Linked DNA regions of Homo sapiens. The protein of the gene in region 2 interacts with the protein of the main gene of each other region in a pairwise test. Each region holds a gene or a part of one and is shown on either strand. Other genes may lie near its edges. The genes, in order: HIPK3, TOX4, CCBE1, EXOSC10 and MYL7.

Evidence for each region.
Region 1: the proteins of TOX4 (region 2) and HIPK3 interact in a two-hybrid assay, tested with the Homo sapiens proteins (one large-scale study listed by BioGRID and IntAct).
Region 3: the proteins of TOX4 (region 2) and CCBE1 interact in a two-hybrid assay, tested with the Homo sapiens proteins (one large-scale study listed by BioGRID and IntAct).
Region 4: the proteins of TOX4 (region 2) and EXOSC10 interact in a two-hybrid assay, tested with the Homo sapiens proteins (one large-scale study listed by BioGRID).
Region 5: the proteins of TOX4 (region 2) and MYL7 interact in binary tests that used the Homo sapiens proteins (3 or more experiments, as listed by UniProt).

Annotation. Positions count from the first base shown.
Region 1 is NC_000011.10:33,347,628-33,351,643, reverse strand, and holds part of HIPK3 (homeodomain-interacting protein kinase 3), read right to left. Parts: intron 4,016-4,016; coding exon 3,891-4,015; intron 3,793-3,890; coding exon 3,631-3,792; intron 3,479-3,630; coding exon 3,416-3,478; intron 3,123-3,415; coding exon 2,826-3,122; intron 2,498-2,825; coding exon 2,357-2,497; intron 37-2,356; coding exon 1-36. UniProt on the Homo sapiens protein: Serine/threonine-protein kinase involved in transcription regulation, apoptosis and steroidogenic gene expression. Phosphorylates JUN and RUNX2. Seems to negatively regulate apoptosis by promoting FADD phosphorylation.
Region 2 is NC_000014.9:21,483,278-21,487,293, forward strand, and holds part of TOX4 (TOX high mobility group box family member 4), read left to right. Parts: intron 1-4,016. UniProt on the Homo sapiens protein: Transcription factor that modulates cell fate reprogramming from the somatic state to the pluripotent and neuronal fate. In liver, controls the expression of hormone-regulated gluconeogenic genes such as G6PC1 and PCK1.
Region 3 is NC_000018.10:59,687,068-59,691,083, forward strand, and holds part of CCBE1 (collagen and calcium-binding EGF domain-containing protein 1 precursor), read right to left. Parts: intron 1-4,016. UniProt on the Homo sapiens protein: Required for lymphangioblast budding and angiogenic sprouting from venous endothelium during embryogenesis.
Region 4 is NC_000001.11:11,075,502-11,079,517, forward strand, and holds part of EXOSC10 (exosome complex component 10), read right to left. Parts: intron 2,151-4,016; coding exon 2,100-2,150; intron 1,943-2,099; coding exon 1,864-1,942; intron 1,448-1,863; coding exon 1,341-1,447; intron 1-1,340. UniProt on the Homo sapiens protein: Catalytic component of the RNA exosome complex which has 3'->5' exoribonuclease activity and participates in a multitude of cellular RNA processing and degradation events.
Region 5 is NC_000007.14:44,138,193-44,142,639, forward strand, and holds MYL7 (myosin regulatory light chain 2, atrial isoform), read right to left. Parts: upstream 3,141-4,447; 5' UTR 3,114-3,140; coding exon 3,111-3,113; intron 2,883-3,110; coding exon 2,769-2,882; intron 2,665-2,768; coding exon of another isoform or gene 2,596-2,664; coding exon 2,520-2,595; intron 2,236-2,519; coding exon 2,131-2,235; intron 1,669-2,130; coding exon 1,590-1,668; intron 1,378-1,589; coding exon 1,329-1,377; coding exon of another isoform or gene 1,230-1,328; intron 831-1,229; coding exon 729-830; 3' UTR 672-728; downstream 1-671.

The DNA.
Region 1 (4,016 bases), on a different chromosome or scaffold from region 2:
GTATCACAACTACTTTCTTGCTCTTCATCTGACATACTACAAAAAGAAAGCATTTTTTATGAGTGATATTTTTTTCCAACATTAAATCTAATGTTAAGTAATATTCAGGCTCCAGTGAACTGATGAGAACATTATTCAGTTATTTTATATATAATTACACCTTTTTCCTTGTCCAATAGCACTTTTTCATAAAATTTCTAGACCCTTAAATTAATTCTCTGTTCCAACTGCCAAACCTAATTCTGTTCCATTTCAGGAACATCATTTTGGCATTTTTTTTTTCTTCTTTCCCTTCCCATTTGATCCTTAGTAGCAGCTCATAAAATTCCTCTTTATAAATTCCAGATAATTTCATCAAGACATGACAAAAGAGGCACTGCTCTGGATAATTTAAATGAAATATACAAACATATATGTATGTGACTTGGCTATTTCAAATTAAATTCTAACATCAGGATATGTGCCTCTGCTGGTAATTTGGGTCCTTGTACCTAACCAGGTATCTGAAAGGTATCCCCACACCTCTGAAGGCCTAGACAGAGCCCCATATTTCTCATCTCTTCCTGACACTCTTGGGCCCTGACAATCTCTCTCTCCTTGGGATTTCTACAGCATTTATTGTCTGTTTCAACCACTCATTCCATACTTACTTACGAATTTGAAGCATCTCTTTTTATACATATTTTTATTTATATATCTTATACGTATATTTGTTTATATATATTTTACATGTGAATGTATAGTTATGTACATTATCAATTTTCAAACCATATTATAAGCAACTTTTAAGAAGATACATTAAAATTTCCTTATATTTTCCATAGAGCTTTGGCTATAAGAATGCAATATCATATTTCCTAAGGAAAAAGATGTGTAAAATTAAAACTTAAAATTTTTCAAATGTTTGTTGCCACTAAAATAAGACTTTATTTCTTTCTTTCCTTCCCCTCCTTCCTTCCTTCCTTTCTAAGAGATAGGGTCTTACTCTGTTGCCCAGGCTATAGTGCAGTGGTGTGATCATAGCTCACTGCAGCCTCAAATTACAGGGCTCAAATAATCCTCCTGCCTCAGCCTCCTGAGTAGCTAGCACTACAGGCATGCAACACCACATCCTGCTTTTTTTTTTTTTTTTAATTTTTGGTAGAGGCGGGGTCTCACTATGTTGTCCAGGCTGGTCTCGAACTCTTGGCCTCAAGTGATCCTCCTGCCTTGGCCTCCCAAAGTGCTGGGATTACAAGTGTTGGCCACTGTGCCTAGACTGTGGCTTATCTCTCAATGCGTTAGTAAATCATTCTGCTTAGGACAAGCTTACTATCTTAGCAGTGGTACATGTCGCTGGCCAAAGGATGGGTAAGCCAGGTTAATATGGATAAAACCATGCAAATCAGTCACCAATGGGAGAAAAAAATCATAGTGGATGTCCTGTAGACAGTGGGCCAGTGAGTACTTCATTATGCAAAACATTCCTTTTTAATTTTGCTAAAGTATATGTTTTTATTCCAAATTTAAGTTACAATAGTAGTCTGTGGGGCTGAAATTAAGAATGTGGCTTTTTTATCCTTTCAAAAATAGATTATTTGGCTGGATGTGGTGGCTCACGCCTGTAATCCTAGCATTTTGGGAGGCTGAGGCAGGCAGATCACCTGAGGTAAGGAGTTCAAGACCAGCATGTCCTGGTGAAACCCCATCTCTACTAAAAATACAAAAAATTAGCCAGGTGTGGTGGCAGGTTCCTGTAGTCCCAGCTACATGGGAGGCTGAGGCAGGAGACTCACTTGAACCTGGGGAGGCGGAGGCTGCGGTGAGCCAAGATCACACCATTGCACTCCAGCCTAGGTGACAGAGCCACACTTCATCTCCTCCCACCCGCCCCTCAGCAAAAAAAGATTATTTAGTTAGGTATGGTGGCTCATGCCTGTAATCCCAGCACTTTGGGAGGCCAAGGTGGGAGCACTGGTTGAGCCCAGGAGTTCAAGACCAGCCTGTGCAACAGGGCAAGATCCCATCTCTACAAAAAAAACTTAAAAATTAGCCGAGCATCGCTGTGCGCACCTGTGGTCCCAGCTACTCAAGAGGCTAAGGCAAGAGGATTGCTTGAGCCTGGGAGGCAGAGGTTGCTGTGAGCCGAGATCATGCCACTGCATTCCAGCCTGGGCAACAAAGCAAGACCCTGTCTCAAAAACAAACAAACAAACAAACAAACCTGTGTTTATAAAAACTGATCTAGTTCAAAAATTGTGTTCAAGATAGAAGTCACTGTGGTAAACTGGCAGGTACTTATTAAACAACAGAAAGAAATCGTAGGCTTTTTAGTAGACTTACTATTTATTACACACTACTATTGAGATTCTTTTACCTATTCGGTCTCTTGCAGGGGGATGGGCTGGACTGCCCTGAGGAGCTGGTACTCAGAGTACTATCAGGACTACTTAATGAACACATCCGATCAATATTCAAAGTGCTCTGGCAAGCTTCACAATCTAGACTACCTTTACATCTAGTGGAAGAGAAAAGGGAAAAACATGAGTCAAATACAAGAAGATACTCTCCAAATAGCCAAAATTTATATTCTTTAATTAAGGATATGAAACTGTTAAGAATGACCTACATGGACAAAAAGTTAAAGCTTACAGATACAAGGAAAATGCTATAATAATCGTGCTAAATGTTATTTAGAAAGTTCCCTGTCTAGAACTGGGTTATCTAATTTAAAGGTTTTACTCCAGAGTACATTGACAAACAAGAAATAAGTCACAGAAAGTTGTTTTTCGGCACACCAAAGGATGCCATCTATATCCTTTGAGGATGCAGCGTTTGGCACTTACTCTCTGAGTGAATGTCTCTGGGAAGTCTCTTCCTCATCAGTGTCACTGCTGATAGTGATGACACTCACTGCAGGACTCGGGGAGTCGGCAATAATGATGGTTTGCCGCTGTTTGTCTGAAACTGATGAATCAGAGTCCTGTCTGATAGATGTTTCACAGCAATTTCTTGCCTCTCCTTCTGAGTTCTGATTGTCCTGTGTTTCTATACAACTTACTTCCTCGACATCTTTCCCATTAATTATCTTTGGAGAAATAAATGCTGAATGTGGGATATTGGTATTCTGTAATGAATTACTCCTGCAACCAAAGGAATAATTTATAATTTCTATAATCAAAATATGTATAATCAATTGTCTAAGGTATCTTGTTAAACCAGAAAATGAGAACCTTCACTTGTTCGAGTTCATGAATATAACACACTAACAGATCTTGAGTTTTTGTGAAATATAAAATAGCTCTAGAAATATCCATGTAGACTGCATTTACATACATTTAAATAGTTGCTTTTTGGTAAATGTGCTATCTGAATGTCCACAATTGCTACATTACAGGTAGATAATAAATCAAAAGGGCAATAAAGACAATCTTACCAACTGAAAGCATTTATTTCCTCTCTTCCTGGCTCCCATTCCATTAGTTTTACCAAAATACCTCTGAGAAATTGAGAAGGGAGCTGGCTTAGTGTTTGTAACAAAGCTATAAAAGAGGTCATTTTGAATACAACAGAGTGACCCTTTAGAGTACATGCAAAATTCATTTAAAAGATTCTCAAAATGCAGAGGAAAGCTAAAGCACCAATACCAACCTGTTCTGGCACTGTTTATTTTTCTTGGTAGTGGCAGGCTGAGGCCAGACAACATGTGCAATCCCCACACTAACTGGCTGAGGGGCAGATAAAGTTATCTGATTGGTCAGAAGAGGCTGCGGCATCACTGAGTTATAATGATTGCTGCATGAAATCATCTTCCTAGGGAGAAGTTCAGAACAATGTTTTTAATCAAGATCTTTCTTTAATCAAGATCTAGTCTGCAAACTATTCACAAAGTACTTTTGTTTTCAGCTTACCCCCAGTCTCCAAGCCTGTGTGAACCAGCCACACTCTCAGAAGTTAGTGTAGTAGTAGCAGGAGCCAGGGGTGTCACCTGTTGCCAGGCAGGCACCAGCATCTGCTGTGTTCTACCAGACCACGTC
Region 2 (4,016 bases):
TCTTTGCTTTGCCAAAGCAATCTGTATCTTGAAAATTTTGGAAACTACTATTTTACTATTAGTCTAGTACAGTAAATGTTTCCCTTGATCCTTCTTCCTGTTCCTATAACTTTTTTTTTTTTTTTGGTGTGAGAATTTGGTAAAAATCTTTGTACCTTCTACCTTAAAAATGCTCACGTAAACCTAAACTGAAATATCAGAAAGAGTCATGGACTGGAAGTTAAGAACTTCCACACAATAACAAAAATTATGGGCCAGACACAGTGGCTCACACTTGTAATCCTAGAACTTTGGGAGGCCAAGGTGGGAAGATCACTTGAGCCCAAGAGTTCAAGGCTGCAGTGAGTGGTGATGGAGCCATGCACTCAGCCTGGGCGACAGGGTAAGACCCTGTCTCAGAATTAAAAAAAACAACAACAAAACAACATACATAAATACATGATTTGTGTACTACTGAGAAAAGTTCAGTTCTTGGGGAAAGTTTCAGTTTTTCCCATCAAGAACTGCGTGGTATTTTTTGTTATTTGTGTGTGTGTGTGTGCGCGTGTGAGACAGAGTCTTGCTCTGTCATCCAGGCTGGAGTGCAGTGATGTGATCTTGGCTCACTGCAGCCTTCAACTCCTGGGTTCAAGCGATTCTCGTGCCTCAGCCACCTGGGTAGCTGGGATTACAGACGCACACCACCACACCCAGCTAATTTTTGTATTTTTAGTAGAGATGGGGTTTTCCATGTTGGCCAGGCTGGTCCCGAACTCCCGACTTTTCAAGTGATCCACCCACCTTGGCTTCCCAAAGTACTGGGATTACAGGTGTGAGCCACCACTACCAGCTGAGAACTGTGTGTTCTTATGCTCCGTGTGCTACTTATATCTCAGACAACGACCAGATTTTTTACCATACCAAGTAAAATAGTAAGGAGAAGGGAAACTGTACATATATCTTTTTGTCTTTTAGGAAACTTTTACAAATGTGATTCAGAGATTGGGCATTTCACAGGCACACTTTTTTCTCCCTAGTTTCTGCTAGCTGGAAATTTTCTTTCTAGCAATGTCTTTTTTTTTTTTTTTTTTTTTTTTTTTTTTTTTTTTTGAGACAGAGTCTTGCTCTGTCACCCGGGCTGGAGTGCAGTGGCACAATCTCGGCTCACTGCAGCCTCTGCCTCCTGGATTCAAGTGATTCTCCTGCCTCAGCCTCCTGATGTAGATGGCATTACAGGCACCTGCCACCACACCTGGCTAATTTTTGTATTTTTAGTAGAGATGGATTTTCGCCATGTTGGCCAGGCTGGTCTCGAACTCTTGACCTCAGGTGGTCCACCCACCTCGGCCTCCCAAAGTGCTGAGATTATAGGCATGAGCCACGGCACCCGGCCTTTATTTTCTTTCTTTTTCTTTTTTTTTAGACATGGTCTTGGTCTGTCGCCCAGGCAGGATTGCAGTGGTGCAGTCTTGACTCACTGTGACCTCTGACTCCTGAGTTCAAGTGATCCTCGTGCCTCAGCCTCTCGAGTAGCTAGGATTATAGGTGTGTGCCACCATGCCTGACTAATTTTTTGTTCTTTTGGTAGAGACGGGTTTCACTGTGTTGGCCAGGCTGGTCTCGAACTCCTGGCCTCGTGTGATCCGCCCACCTGGGCCTCCCGAAGTGCTGGGATTACAGGCGTGAGCCACTGCTCCCAGCCTAATGTCTTCATTAAACCAGAATTAGAGGCTGGGCGCTGTGGCTCATGCCTGTAATCCCAACAGTTTGGGAGGTCAAGGCAGGGTGATGGCTTGAGCCCAGGGGTTCAAGACCAGTCTGGGCAATATGGCCAGACCCAATCTCTACAAAAAATGCAAAAATTAGCCTGGCGTCATGGCCAGGCGTGGTGGCTCACGCCTGTGATCTCAGCACTTTGGGAGGCCAAGGAGGGCGGATCACCTGAGGTCGGGAGTTCAAGACCAGCCTGACCAACATGGAGAAACCCCGTCTCTACTAAAAATACAAAATTAGCCGGGCATGGTGGCACATGTCTGTAATCCCAGCTACTAGGGAGGCTGAGGCAGGAGAATCACTTGAACCTGGGAGGCGGAGGTTGCGGTGAGCTGAGATCACGCCATTGCACTCCAGCCTGGGCAACAAGAGTGAAACTCTGTCTCAAAAATAAAATAATAATAAAAATTAGCCTGGCATGGTGGTGTGCACCTGTAGTTACTTGGGAACCTGAGGTGGGAGAATCACTTGAACCCAGGAGGCGGAGGTTGCAGTGAGCAATATCACGCCACTGCATTTTATCATGGGTGACAAAGGAGACTCTATCTCAAAAAAAAAAAAAACTGCCAGGTGCGGTGGCCCATGCCTGTAATCCCAGCACTTTGGGAGGCTGAGGCGGGTGGATCACGAGGTCAAGAGATCGAGGCCAACATGGTGAAACCCCGTCTCTATTAAAAAACACAAAAATTAGCTGGGCGTGGTGGCACACACCTGTAGTCCTAGCTACTCTGGAGGCTGAGGCAGGAGAACTGCTTGAACCCGGGAGGTGGAGGTTGTAGTGAGCCAAGATCGCGCCACTGCACTCCAGCCTGGGCCACGGAGCGAGACTCTGTCTCAAAAAAAAGAAAAAAAAAAAAAGACAGAAATGGTCATAATAGAAGAACATTTCAGGATCTAGAGGAACCTTGAGGTCTGTAAGCCCAACACTTTGGAGGCCGAGGCAGTAGGATTACTTGAGTCCAGGAGTTCGAGACTAGCCTGGGCAACACAGGGAGAGCTCGTCTCCACAAAAAATTTTAAAAATTAGCTGGGTGTGGTGGCACATACCTGTAGTCCCAGCTACTCGGGAGGCTGGGGCTGGAGGCTTGCTTGAGCCCAGGAGTTCCAGATCAGCTTGGGTGACAGGGCAAGACCCCATCTCAAAAAAAAAGAAAAGGAACCTTTAGGAACTCTATTTAAAGAATGCATTGTTCAATTATGAAAAAAAAAAATGTTGGTACCTATTGAATTTGATCTGAATCAGTTTATATTTACTATGCTATGTGTTAGATTGATAGAATTTAAAGTTTCTAAAATTCCAATTATCTGTTATAATTGGTTGGGGTGGGGGTAATCATTATTAGGATATTATCATTCATAACAATGGTTAATGATGGTGATTAAGCCATTATATGTATCAGGCAATGTGCTAAGATTTTATGCATGAAATCTCACTTATCCTCATAATAACCATATAAGGGGATTACCATTATAATTCCCATTTTACAGATGAAGAAAACTTGTTCAAGGTCTTGTACCCAGGTCTCTCTGACAGCAGTCTCTTGCTATTATTTATAAATGTCTATTGCTGTAAATGCCACCATTTAGATTTTAGTGTCAAAACAGAACCATAGCAGTTCACATCTTAATCAGACATTGTCTGTTAGCTGCATGAGTGGTGGCCTCATTCAGAAAAGAAAGAATGTGTTATTATTGACCTAGTTGGACTCAGAGGAAGAGATTGGGTCTTTAGCCAACTGGAGTAATCCTTTTCCTCTCTTAGAGAGAAGCTTGGTCAGAGCAAGACTAGCATTTTTGGCATTGTTGAGGTTTTCTGAAAATCCTATACTAATGGGAATCTTTATTTGTTGTTAACATTATAATTTCTAAAGTGGAGAAGAAGTAGGAAACTCTGCAAATATTTTAGAGGGGGTAAAGTTCCCATGACAGTACATTTTAGCATCTGTTTGAAAGGAACCTAAAACAACAAAGTATAATTGGCTGGCTGACAGCGAATTTCTGTGACCTAACAGTTTAGATGTAATAATTGTGAAATAACTGCTCTATTAGAATCTTTAGAGAGAGATTTCAAGAATCATAGTAAACAGGTTATAAAGGCTATGTCCTAAGTAATGGTACTGAAAGAATTTTTCATTAGAACCATAGGCATAATTTAAGACAAAAGAGACGGTAATGGTAGAAAAGAGATAAAAGAATTGAAAATTGTGACTGATGTTAGCAGCCTTGAATGTACCAAATGACCAAGGGTATCAGAAGAGAGATTG
Region 3 (4,016 bases), on a different chromosome or scaffold from region 2:
TTCACACCACAAAAAAATTGAGCCATTTCTTTGTGGGAAAATTCCAAAATGAAGCAAGGACACATTATCAAGAGCAATCCAAATGAAAGCTAAGAGGTCACAGTCACAGAAAAAGCCACAGTGTGGTCTGTGCTGGCTTACAGATGCCCTCCAATCTTCGAGGAAATAGCGCTAGACAAAAGAAGAGGGTTACAAAGCTTACATTTGTCTATCTATGCACCTTTCTAAGTTTAGCCTACTTAAGTTAAAATGGACATGTTAAAGGTCATGAACGTCCACATAACGTTAAATTTTTTCACAACTTCATCTCCGTAGGATCCTATTTCTGAACAGATCTGTGCCTGTGTTTTTTTCTCTACACCACATCATTCCTTTACCTTCCTATTACATCAAATGATGAATTCCAGTTTCCTAACTTTTCCCTTCCTTTGCCAAAATACCATTATCAGACTTTGTTTCTCTCACTTCAGAATATTTCTTTTAGACTGTTCTCTCCTTCTCCACTACTGTTTTCCACAGTCATTGTTAAAGCCATCACTATTTAGGAGTCTCCATGAGCTTTGTGGAACAAAACAGCTGGTGTTAAAAGGAAGTTCAAAAATTCATAAGTTTAGGCTGGGTTCAAGTGGCTCACACCTGTAATCCCAGTACTTTGGGAGGCCGAGATGGGTGGATCACCTGAGGAGCTCAAGACCAGCCTGGCCAACATGGCAAAACCCCATCTCTACTAAAAATACAAAAAAATTAGCTGGGCGTGGTGGCACATGCTTATAGTCCCAGCTACTCTAGAGGCTGAGGCAGGAGAATCCCTTGAACCCCAGAGTTGGAGGTTGCAGTGAGCTGAGATTGCACCACTGCCCTCCAGCTTGGGCAACAGAGATTCCATTTGAAAAAAAAGAAATTCTTAAGTTTAATCACTGATATATTCTGCATAGGGTACCTGTATAGTGTTATAATATATTTTTAGCCATACATGGAAAAATATAAAGTTATAACTGATTCCGAATACCTTCAATGAAAATGGCTTTTTTTCCCTCGATGGGTATTCCTCCAAATATATGCTATCATTTGATCTTTGAATGTAAAAATTTTTCTACTATACTAATTCAAAACTAACATTTCGGCTAGGTGCGGTGGCTCATGCCTATAATCCCAACACTTTAGGAGGCTGAGGAGTTCAAGACCAGCCTGGACAACGTAGCAAGAATCCATCTCTACAAAAAATTAAATTAGTCAGGCATGGTGGTGGGCTCATGTAGTCCCAGCTACTCAGGAGGATGAAGCAGGAGGATAGCTTCAGCCTGGGAGATTGAGGCTGCAGTGAGATATGATTGCACCACTGTACTGCAGTCTAGGCAACAGAGTGAGACCATGTCTCAAAAAACAAAAACAAAAAACAAACCCTAACATGTTGAAATGTATGGAGAGGTGGCTTTCAGCCTACAAAGCGTGTGATAATTGATATGCAAATCAATGAGGTAAGGTAGCAAACCAAGGTAACACTCAAGGGTTATTCTATTGGCACAGGAAGGCTTGTCATGGAAAGCCATAGAAAGGCAGCAGGAAGTGAGTGCTCAATCAACTCCTTGCAATAAAGTCAGCTTCTTAGAAACTGGCAGATTATGCTCATTTCGAGTATCACTTAGGAATGATGACTTGAAAGAAGTTCCAGCTCAACAAAAACTATGATTCCTGGAGATCAGAAAACCAAGTGACAACTAAAGATGCTTGGCCAAGAAATCCAAACACTGTAATATAAATAAGGTGATACACAGGTAAGTGACCCAAAGATGAAGATGAGTAAGTGACCGTCCCAAGGTCACCTTGAGAATTCAGACATGTGGATGAGGTGTTATAGATGGAAAGCCCCAATCCTGGTGTTTGTATTAAAGTGGATCTACAGGAGTCAAGTTTTCTTTTGTAAGGGGCTAGGCAGTAAATATCTGGGACTTTGGGGGCCAAATTGGGATTCTGTGTGTTCTTTTGCAATGCTTTCAAGACAAAAACTACTCAAACTATTAGTAGTACAAGAACAAGCCATGGGCCCTAGTTTGCCAATCCCTGCTCTCTACCAAACTCCCAGGATTAGACGCTACCTGTTGAGAGCCCCCCTGTATCTCCCACCAGTTCTGTTTACATAGCCTCCTGTGGGACAGCCCACGGGGCTGACATCCGTCCCTGTCATTCCCAGAGGGCCAAGGATGAGAAGCTTCACTCCAGATGAGGCAAATAGAATGTCCCACAGGAGTGGCCAAGAAGGAAAGGTCTAGAACGGATGTGGTCCCAGTTTCTGAAGTCCTCAAGGTCATGGTAAGATGAACTAGTTCTACCACAACCAATAAGGTGGCAACATATTCATCCAAGCTTTCACATTGGCTCTTGGCACACATGGATCATACCTTAAAGCTAGAAAGATGCGACATTTTGCTTAATGAGGATTAAGTGTGTAGGCATCACTACCACCCCATTCTCTACAGGTGTTTCAAGCTGGAAACTAACTGTTCAAGAAGTGTCACATACTTATATGATGACAGATCTATAATGCATTATGTGGAGAGTCAAGCAATGTTGGAGGGGCATGCCTTCTTTAAAACTCTGCTTACAGTCACTGTCGGAAAACATGATGCTGGCCTAGGTGAACTGGGCTTGGGGTATTTGTCCCTAGTGGGGCAACTCTGATGCTGCTATCCACATCACAGGTCACATGAGAAAATAACACCTCCTCTTTGTAATGCTTTCACATTGCAATAATTCTTGGAAGAAACTTGCGGTACATGCTAAGTTCTTGCTAGCGCCTCTGCAGAAAACCTTCTGTTACCACCATCCCTGGGTTTTCCTGACTCTGCTTGAAGCTGTGGGATTTCTGTTGCTGAAAGGACACAGCTGGGCTACCGGCAATTAAGATCTTAACCTCCAAAGTGTGACATTAATCAAATGTATGTCCAAAACAAGTATCTTAAAAAGGTCCCAAAGGAAATCTTTGGGTCAAAATTCCTTTACTGAAAGATAAAGGGAATTAAAATTCCTTGAGGACAGAGGATTTTTGTTGTTGTTGGGGGTTTGTCCAATTTTCAGATATATTCTAAATGTCTAGAACAGTGCCTGGCAGATTGTAAGTACCCAACAAGTATTCGTTGACTAAGTAAATGAAGCTTGTTCATAAGATTAAAATTAGTCAATAGCTAATTAAAACACTATTTAAAATGAGTCAATAGCTTCGCAGAAAAAAAGGACCTCACTTGGCAGAAGAGGAACTGCAGATGTTATAGCTGTTTACTTTTTCATCCCGCAAATAAAAGCAATAATCTAAAACAGAATGTGATCTTTGTTCTCTAGATACTCAACAATGCCTTAAATGCCAGCAGACCCTCTAAACTCACAAAAGGAGCTCCGGTCCTGCTGAGCAGGAGAACAGCAGGGTTTGGGAAAGCTGCTGATTGAAATGCAAGCCTTCTCCTGAGAAGATAGAATATCTAGAATCAAGAAAGAGGCATTTGGCTTTTCCGGGTGCACCCACCCCAGCTTCACTTACAAAGGATGAAGTTAACCATAGGAAGTTGGGCAGCAACCAGAGTAGCAACTGGATCTGATCTCAAAGGACACACCAGTGAAAGAGCAGCCTTTTGTGGTTACTGAGTTAAAATTGTTTCCAATTACTCCGTATTGTTTCTCTGAGAGTGAGTGAGAAGTGATACAGAACCTTCCCTCCCTCGAACACCTGTTCTTGTGGGAAGGCGGGGGACCCCCTTTAAAACCTTGATCCTCTACTCCAAAGCCAGTGTCTGTGGCACAATTAAACACACAGGCAGGAACCCACATGTCCTCTTCAGGTGTTATTTAAGATGGCAAGTTCAAGGAGTTAGCTATAGCTGCCAGAATCTAGCACCTGTTACACATTAGCAATTAAAGTTAAGCGGATCTAACTTGGAACCAATGAAAATAATGGCAGCTTCTCAGAGGTCCAGTTAATCTCTGGTTTTTAGAAGAGTCTTCCTAGCTCAGATTTTAAATAAAGC
Region 4 (4,016 bases), on a different chromosome or scaffold from region 2:
CAGCCCAGAGCTCATGCTAACACGCTTAGCTGCTAAATCATCTTCATGACTCAAATTAGCTCTGAGGTCAGCTAAAGCGCCTAGTATTTTCTCATTAATTGCTAAAGCAAGGCCCAATCTAGATTTATGTAATTAAGTTAAAAACCAAAGTGAAGCCTGGGCGACATGGTGAAACCCCACCTCTACAAAACATACAAAAATTGGCTGGGCATGGTGGCATACACCTGTAGTCCCAGCTACTCGAGAGAAGGCTGGGGCAGAGGGATTGCTTGAGCCCAGGAGGCAGAGGTTGCAGTGAGCCAGGATGGTGCCACTGCACTCCCACCTGGGTGACAGGATGAGATCCTGTCACAAAAAAAAAAAAAAAAAAAAAAAAAAAAAATGCCGGGTGTGGTGGCTCATGCCTGTAATCCCAGCACTTTGGGAGGCTTAGGTGGGTGGATCGCCTGAGGTCAGGCATTCGAGACCAGCCTGGCCAACATAGTGGCCCCATCTCTATTAAAAATATAAAATATTAGCTAAGTATGGTGGCGGGCGCCTGCAATCCCAGCTACTAGGGAAGCTGAGGCAGGAGAATCGCTTGAACCTGGGAGGTGGAGGTTGCAGTGAGCCGAGATGATGCCACTGCACTCCAGCCTGTGCAACAAGAGCGAAACTCCATCTCAAAAAACCAAACCAAACAAACAAAAAAAGTGAAATAGCTGGGCACAGTGACTCATGCCTGTAATCCCAGCTACTCAGGAGGCTGAGGCAGGAGGATCGTTTGAGCCTCAGAAGTCAAGGCTGCAGTGAGCCATGATTGTGCCACTGCATTCCAGCCTTGGTGGCAGAACAAGATTGTCTCAAAAAAAAAAAAAATCATTTCTCTTCTTCACTGAAAGCACACATATGTGGTGCTGGGGTCAGGCAGGAAGCTATGGGCAGCGCACATTCTACAGTTCATCGGACAGTACACCCATGCCACCCCTGCTGGGCATCCAGGTGAACCGTTTTTCCTCCACCACCACTGCAGCTTGTCTGGAAAGCCCTGCTTGTATGTTCTCTTAGCGCAGGCCCTCCTCCCACTAGGTGCTGTTCAACAACAGGACGTCAGCCTTTCCTGGAAGATTTCTTCACACAGAGCTCAAGAGAATCCCCCATCCACGTCCCCAGACCACCTCCTCCAGAGTGGTCAGTGCCACCTTGCTCATTGGTCTCTATGCCTCTCCCAGCACTGCTGGGTTTTGCTCTCAGCATTAGTCTCCGAGTGTATGCAATGCTCCAGGCAGACAGCCTGCTGAATAAATCCAGTAAATCCCAGGGGGTCCTCATCACCTCAGTGAAGTTTCTGTGCTACTCACATTAAATAACGTGATGACAGCTGTGGCAATCAGGCATGTGGTACCCAGCAAGTTATCTTCTTTTTCATCAGGGAAGAGGCTCGCCTGCTTCTGAACTGGCACAGATCCTAGAGGAGCAGAAGATAGTAAGGTCAAAGCCTACAGAATTTTGTTTATTTTTTCTTTTTGAGATGGAGTTTTAGTGTAGTCCCCTAGGCTGGAGTACAATGGCACAATCTCGGCTCACTGCAACCTCCGCCTCCTCGGTTCAAGTGATTCTCCTGCCTCTGCCTCCTAAGTAGCTAAGATTACAGGTGCCCACCACCATGCCAGCTAATTTTTGTATTTTTAGTAGAGATGGGGTTTCACCATGTTGGCCAGGCTGGTCTCAAACTCCTGACCTCAGGTGATCTACCCGCCTCAGCCTTCCAATATGCTGGCATTACAGGCATAAGCCACCACGCCCGGCCAAGCCTACAGAATTTTAGACAAGGTAGCTGTGTCCCAACCTCTTCGGGACAGTCAGGAGGGCTCTCGACTTTACCACTGGTTGGGATGATTGGATAGCCATCCGGAGGGGCATGGGAGCAGTCGTGAGGTCCAAAGAGAACATTCTCCAATCTCTGCATTAAAAGACACCAGCAGGCTGGCATGTAAAACGTGCAAGCCGGCAGTAGCTTTCTGCCAGCTGTCAGCACAGGCCTCTGTCAGAGGTGTACTTGCACTGGCTGTGACTTGACGTTTTCCCTCCTGGGGGAGAAAACAGATCCGACACTCTACCTCAGCACTGGGCAGCGGTCCGCTCTTCTTCACTCCGGCTGCAACTTCAGACTAAGGAAAAAAACGAAGGGAATTGAGGAAAGTTGCCCAAGCACCTCAAGTCCAACCCCCAGTCTCCAGCGCTGACTGTATTCCTTCACCAGCCTGTTTCTCAAAAGCCCAGAGATTTTCTTTCCTCTCTTCACTCCTTACAGTGCCTGGCATGATAATTATTTGGTGCTCAATAATTATTTGTAGAATGAAAGAATAAAGCTCTTTAACATGACTAAGCACAATAGGAAGGATTCCAAAGAGCTTGAAAAAGACTCTTCTCTAGTAATCAAGGTCTCTCTTTACTTGGACAAAGTACAGAGCTTACAAAGACATTTTTAACACAAAAATTGCAAATGTGGGGCTGGCAGGTGGCTCACAACTGTAATTCCAGTACTTTGGGAGGCTGAGGTGGGAGGACTGCTTGAGCCCACGGGTTCAAGACCAGTCTGGGAAACACAGCAAGACCCATCTCTACAAAAAATTAAAAAAAACATAGCTGGGTATGGTGGTGTATGCCTGTGGTCCCAGCTGCTCAGGAGGCTAAGGTGGGAGCCTAGCAGATGCGAGGCTACAGTGAGCCATGATTGCACCACTGCACTCCAGCCTGGGTGTCAGAGCAAGACCCTGTTTCTTTTTTTTTTTGAGACGGAGTCTCGCTCTGTCGCCCAGACTGGAGTGCAGTGGCGGGATCTCGGCTCACTGCAAGCTCCGCCTCCCGGGTTCACGCCATTCTCCTGCCTCAGCCTCCCAAGTAGCTGGGACTACAGGCGCCCGCCACTACGCCTGGCTAATTTTTTGTATTTTTAGTAGAGACGGGGTTTCACCGTTTTAGCCGGGATGGTCTCGATCTCCTGACCTCGTGATCCGCCCGCCTCGGCCTCCCAAAGTGCTGGGATTACAGGCGTGAGCCACCGCGCCCGGCTGACCCTGTTTCAAAACAACAACAACAACAAAAAAAACAAAAGAAAACTGGCTGCCATTGTCAGCATTTGCTACGAAGTCTCATCAATCTTTTCTTCTGATGCTTCCTACACCTGTTCTTTCCTTCTCAGTGTGTGATTCCTCACTCATTCAGGGAGCTATCACTTCACATCTGGGCCATCGCCAGGCTCCCAAAACTAGCTCCCTCTGCTGAGGTCACCGCTCCATCTCACTCCACCACATTAACTGCCTTAGAACAGTGAATTGGCCCAGTTACCAGACAGTACTTGCTGCTGAATCATCAAAGCTAAGGTCATAAATAAAGAGTCTTAGCTCTCAACTATCATAAAAAAAAGCAGCTAAATTCATCAAGACACACACACTGGATTTCCTAAGCCCTATTATTTCCCTAGGGTTGTTTAGAATGCAGACCAGCTCATGAATCTAGGAAGCCACAAGGAATAAGACACTAGCAGAAAAAACAGGCCTGCTAAAGTTGGGCATGATGGCTCACGCCTGTAATCCCAGCACTTTGGGAGGCCCAGGTGGTGGATCACCTGAGGTCAGGAGTTCGAGACCAGCCTGGCCAACATGGTGAAACCCCGCCTCTACTAAAAATACAAAATTAGCCAGGCGTGGTGGTGCATGCCTGTAATCCCAGCGACTCAGGAGGTTGAGTCAGGAGAACTGCTTGAATCCAGGAGGCGGAGGTTGCAGTGAGCCGAGATCATGCCACTGCACTCCAGCCTGGAGACAGAGCGAGACTCCGTCTAAAAAAAACAAAAAACAAACAAACAAAAAAAAAACAGGCTTGCTAAGTTGGGACCCTTCAGTAGAAAATCTTTTTTTTTTTTTTTGAGACGGAGTCTCGCTCTGCCTCCCAGGCTAGAGTGCAGTGGCGCGATCTCGGCTCACTGCAACCTCCGCCTCCCGGATTCAAGCAATTCTCCTGCCTCAGCCTCC
Region 5 (4,447 bases), on a different chromosome or scaffold from region 2:
TCACGGCGCATGAGGGGCTCAGGAGGCATGATGCCAGGTTCTGGGCATTTCCTCTAGAAATTTGCATGTTACCTGGCCCCTGCTTTGGTGTCCATGTTCCTCATGTCTTAGTGCCTTGCCTGTATTTGCAATGAGAAGCTGGTTGTGTTTCAAATGGGTACCTCTCTGCCTTTCACAAAGGGCCCATGCAGGGAGGCACCCAAGCCAGTGTATTGAGATGGGGTGCGAGCAGTGGGCCAGGGGAGGCTGTGTGGTTGGGTGTGGGGGTCCCAGGGCTGCTGCCCACCCGCTGGGCTGTTGGGCAGAGTTTGCTGAGTGCCCAGCAAGCAGCCTCTTCTCTGCACAGCCCCAAGTAGCTGGGCAGTGCCCACTTTGTGGCTCATTCCTGGGCTTGGTGGAGGTGGTGTAAATCCCACCATCTCCTCTTCTAGAGGGCTGGCCTTGGTAAGATGCTCACACTTTCTGGGCCTCAGTGTCCTCATCTGTAAACTAGGCATGATCATAGTTCACACTTCACTTGGCATCATGGGAGTGAATCAAGGTGAGCTGGCGAGGGGCCAGCTCCCAGGAGGTAGATGGTGGCCATGATCATGGTGATGTGCGCACTGAGACCCTGGGATCCCCCTTGGCTGGTCCCCAACCCATCTGTCACAGACAAGACACCACAGCAATTCCAATTTTGCAACAGAGTTTATTGAGGTGCCCCCCCGTGGGCCTGGCCCTGCCCCTCATTCCTCTTTCTCGTCTCCATGGGTGATGATGTAGCACAGTGACTTGTAGTCGATGTTCCCCGCCAGGTCCATGGGTGTCAGGGCGAACATCTGCTCCACCTGCAGGGGACACTGGTGAGTGGCAGTCCCCTGGCTCCTGGCCCAGCCCGGCAGAGACCTCACCTGAGTCCTGTGGCCTTTCTGTCTGCCCCCTGCATCTGTGCTTTTTGCCTTAGCTTTTCAACCCTAGACCCCAGACTCTGGGTTAATGTTTTTCTCTTGGCTGACTCTGGGCAGAGTGAGGAGTCAGTGCAAATGTGGGCCAAGAGGCAAAGGACGCCCCTCCAGCCACAGGCACAGGCCCACCCCGAGTGTACGAAACCTCTCCCTATCCACTTCCCCCCAGGTCTGTGCACAGTCTCCCTGCCTGGCGCACCCTGCCCTCTTTTCTGACTCCACATCTTTACCCTCTAGGTCTCAACAGAGATGGCACCTCCTCCAGAAGGGCCCTCGGCTCACCCTTCCAGCAACTGCCTCACTGGTACTGGGCTCTGGGTCATGGGTGAAGGCCCAGAGAAGGTGCTGGGGATGAGTATTGAAGGGGCTGGGCAGCCTCACCTCAGCTGGAGAGAACTTGTCTGCCTGGGTCAGGAGAAGCTGCTTGAACCTGGGGGGTGAGGAGGGTCTGAGCAGGAGACTGCGGGGGAGTGACTGCACAGGGAAGGTGGGTACGGAGGCTCCCATGGCGCAGGGAAGGGTTGGCTGCACCCCAAAGAGCAGTGTAAGGCCCCGAAGCACAGGCAGCCCCCCTCACTAGGGGCCTCACCCCGCTCTCTGCTTCCACCACGGTGCTCCTCATCTGGCTGGGCCCATACTTACTCATCCTTGTTCACCACCCCTTTGCCGCTGGGGTCAAACATGCGGAAGGCACTCAGGATGGCTTCCTCGGGGTCTGTCCCTGGAAGGCCGAGGCAGCCAGGTGAGCATCCATGTCTCCAGCATCCCAGGTCCCCCGCAGGAGGAACTGGGCTGCATGAGGAGCCTCCCACATCCCAGAAGAGGTGGGGGTATTCCCTAACATAAAATGTTTCTCGGGGATCAGTGGGGCTGGGAATGGTCATCCTCCTGAGGCGGGCAGCTTGGCTGGGAGACTGGAATTTGGGGGTGGGGGCTGAAGGCACATTTCCTGGCTCCAAGTCAGCACTGGGGTGACCAGTGCACATGGGATTCTGGGGCAGAGGATGTGCTTGGAATGGGTCATGGCCAGGAAGAGTCCAGGTGGGTCCAGGTGGGGTTCAGTTAGGGTTCAGGTGGGGTTCATGTAAGGTTCAGGTGGGGTTCAGGCAGGGTTCAGGTGGGGTTCAGGCAGGGTGCAGGCTCCCTGCCTGGCCAAGGGTGCCCAGCTCTGTCCCAGGCTCACCATTGAGCTTCTCCCCAAAGAGCGTGAGGAAGACGGTGAAGTTGATGGGGCCCTTGCCCTCTTGCAGCATGGCGTCCAGCTCCTCCTCTGGGACACTCACCTTCCCTGGTGGGGGTGGGGCATGAGGTGCACACAGGGACCCTGGGTGTCCCCCAGAAGGCCCAGGCCGCCCTCCCTCCATCCTGGCCACAGGGGCTGGAGGGGCAGAGGCAGCTGTGGGTCGGGAAGGTGAAGTGGAAGCAAGGCGTGACAAGGGGGGAAGGGCAGTGTGAGGAGACGGGGAGGAGGGGAAGCAGGGGAGCAGAGTCCTGTCCCCCCAGCCACTCCCACCCGCCCAGCAGCTCAGAGTAGGGACCCCAGTGCGCAGGGTGGGAGGTGGGTGCACGCACCCAGCTGGGAGTAGGTCTCCCTCAGGTCTGCCTTGCAGATGATGCCATCACGATTCTGGTCGATACAGCTGAAGGCCTGTGGGATGGGGGCCTTCAGGTGGGAGCAGCCCCCAGCTCTAGGGAAGGTGGGAGGTGGGGGAGAGACCTGGGTGGTGTGAGAGGCAAGGTCAGGGTAGAAGGGGGGTATGTATGTGGGGTGGGGTGGGGGGGCCAGGATGGGATCTGAGGCTACTGGGAGTGGGCACTCACTTCTTTGAACTCCTGTATCTGGGCTTGTTCAAACATGGAAAAGACGTTGGAAGAACCACGTTGGGCCTGCTTGGTGGCTGCCACCTTGCCCCGGGTCCCCGCCTTCCTGCTGGCCTGCAACACTGTGAGTAGGGAGGGGTCCTCTCCCCAACTCCTCAGAGTCTCCCCACCCCACCCATCATGCACAGTCCCAGAGCATTCCCAGGAGAGCCAGGGCCAGGATCCTCTTCCTCTCCCTGGGGACCACCCTCAACCCAACACAAGCACAGAAAACTCTGCTCCCCCAGCCCAAAGGCCAGCACCTGGGAGACCGCTAGCCTTTCTTCCCCAGCAGGCACTCACCATTCTCTCTGCAGAGGTGTGGCTGCTGTCGTGGTGGCAGGGCCCAGCCTCCTTTATGTCTCAGCCTTATCACCTGAAGGTCCAAATAAGGAGAGGAACAGAGGATAGGCCCAAACTTGGCAGCCCCCGCCTGGGCTGGGGGAGGCCTAACAGATTCCAGCCACATTCCTGATGACCTTCATGTCCTCAACGTGTAACATCCTGCTGTCTATCCATCCTGGCAGGGCCAGACACAATGTCTGCCTGGAGCAGAGCAGGCTCAAAGCTCTCACCACCCTAGGTCCTGATGAAGGGATCCAGTTACTCCTGTATCTGACCACCCCTCCTTGCCAGTCCAGCCAGAACCCTGGCCAGTGCAAGAAGACAGCTGGTGAGGGCCAGTCCAGGGCCCCCGCCAGGCATGGGAGGGCAGTGTGTAGTTCTGAGGATGGTCTGTGGCCTGAGACCCCCGGGGCTTCCCAGAGGTTTTGGTGACCCTAGGCTCTGACCTTTTGCCCCTCTGACCAAGGGGCAGAAGGCATCCCTGAGCTAGCTGTGACCCCAAGAAGAACACTTTGCTTGGCTTTGGGGCAATTCCAGAGGGTTAAGGAGCTCCATCAGCTGCCCTCCCATGCAGTCTACCTTGCTCCCAGTCTGCCCTGCTGTTTGGAGCCTTGCCTTCCTCAAGCCTCATCTCAACCACACTACTTCAGAATGCTCTCCCTAACATCCTCAGCAGGGAGCTTCTGGGGCACATTTCCCATTTGCCTGGTGGCTGATGTGTTTGTCATTCCTGGCTTCTGTGCCCCTCCTGAGCACCCCACCTGGTTGACATCTGTATCCCCAGAAGGCCTGGTGCACAGTGGGCCGATGGGCAGGCCTGCGTGATGCTGTTCCAGAGAAGCAGTCTCGCCAGCTTCTGGGGCCGAGGGCACAGCAGAGGGGCTGGGGAAACAGGGGACATCCTGGAGGCAGCAGGAGTGGGCCACCCCAGGCTGGGCTCACTGGCTGCTGCCCCTCCACTGGAGCCAGACCTATGTCTGTCAGTAGCTGGCTGGTAGAGTGCAGGAGCTCTTATCTGTCAGACCCAATACCCTTTTTATATAACAAGAGTTTTCTTTTAAATTTCTTAAATTCCCTTTTTTTTTTTTGAGACAGAGTCTCACTCTCGCACAGGCTGGAGTGCAGTGGCGCGATCTCAGCTCACTGCCACCTCTGCCTCCCGGGTTCAAGCCATTCTTGTTCCTCAGCCTCCCAAGCAGCTGGGATTATAGGCATGTGCCACCACACCCAGCTAATTTTTATATATATTTTTTATTTTATTTTATTTTTAGTAAAGACGGGGTTTTATCATGTTG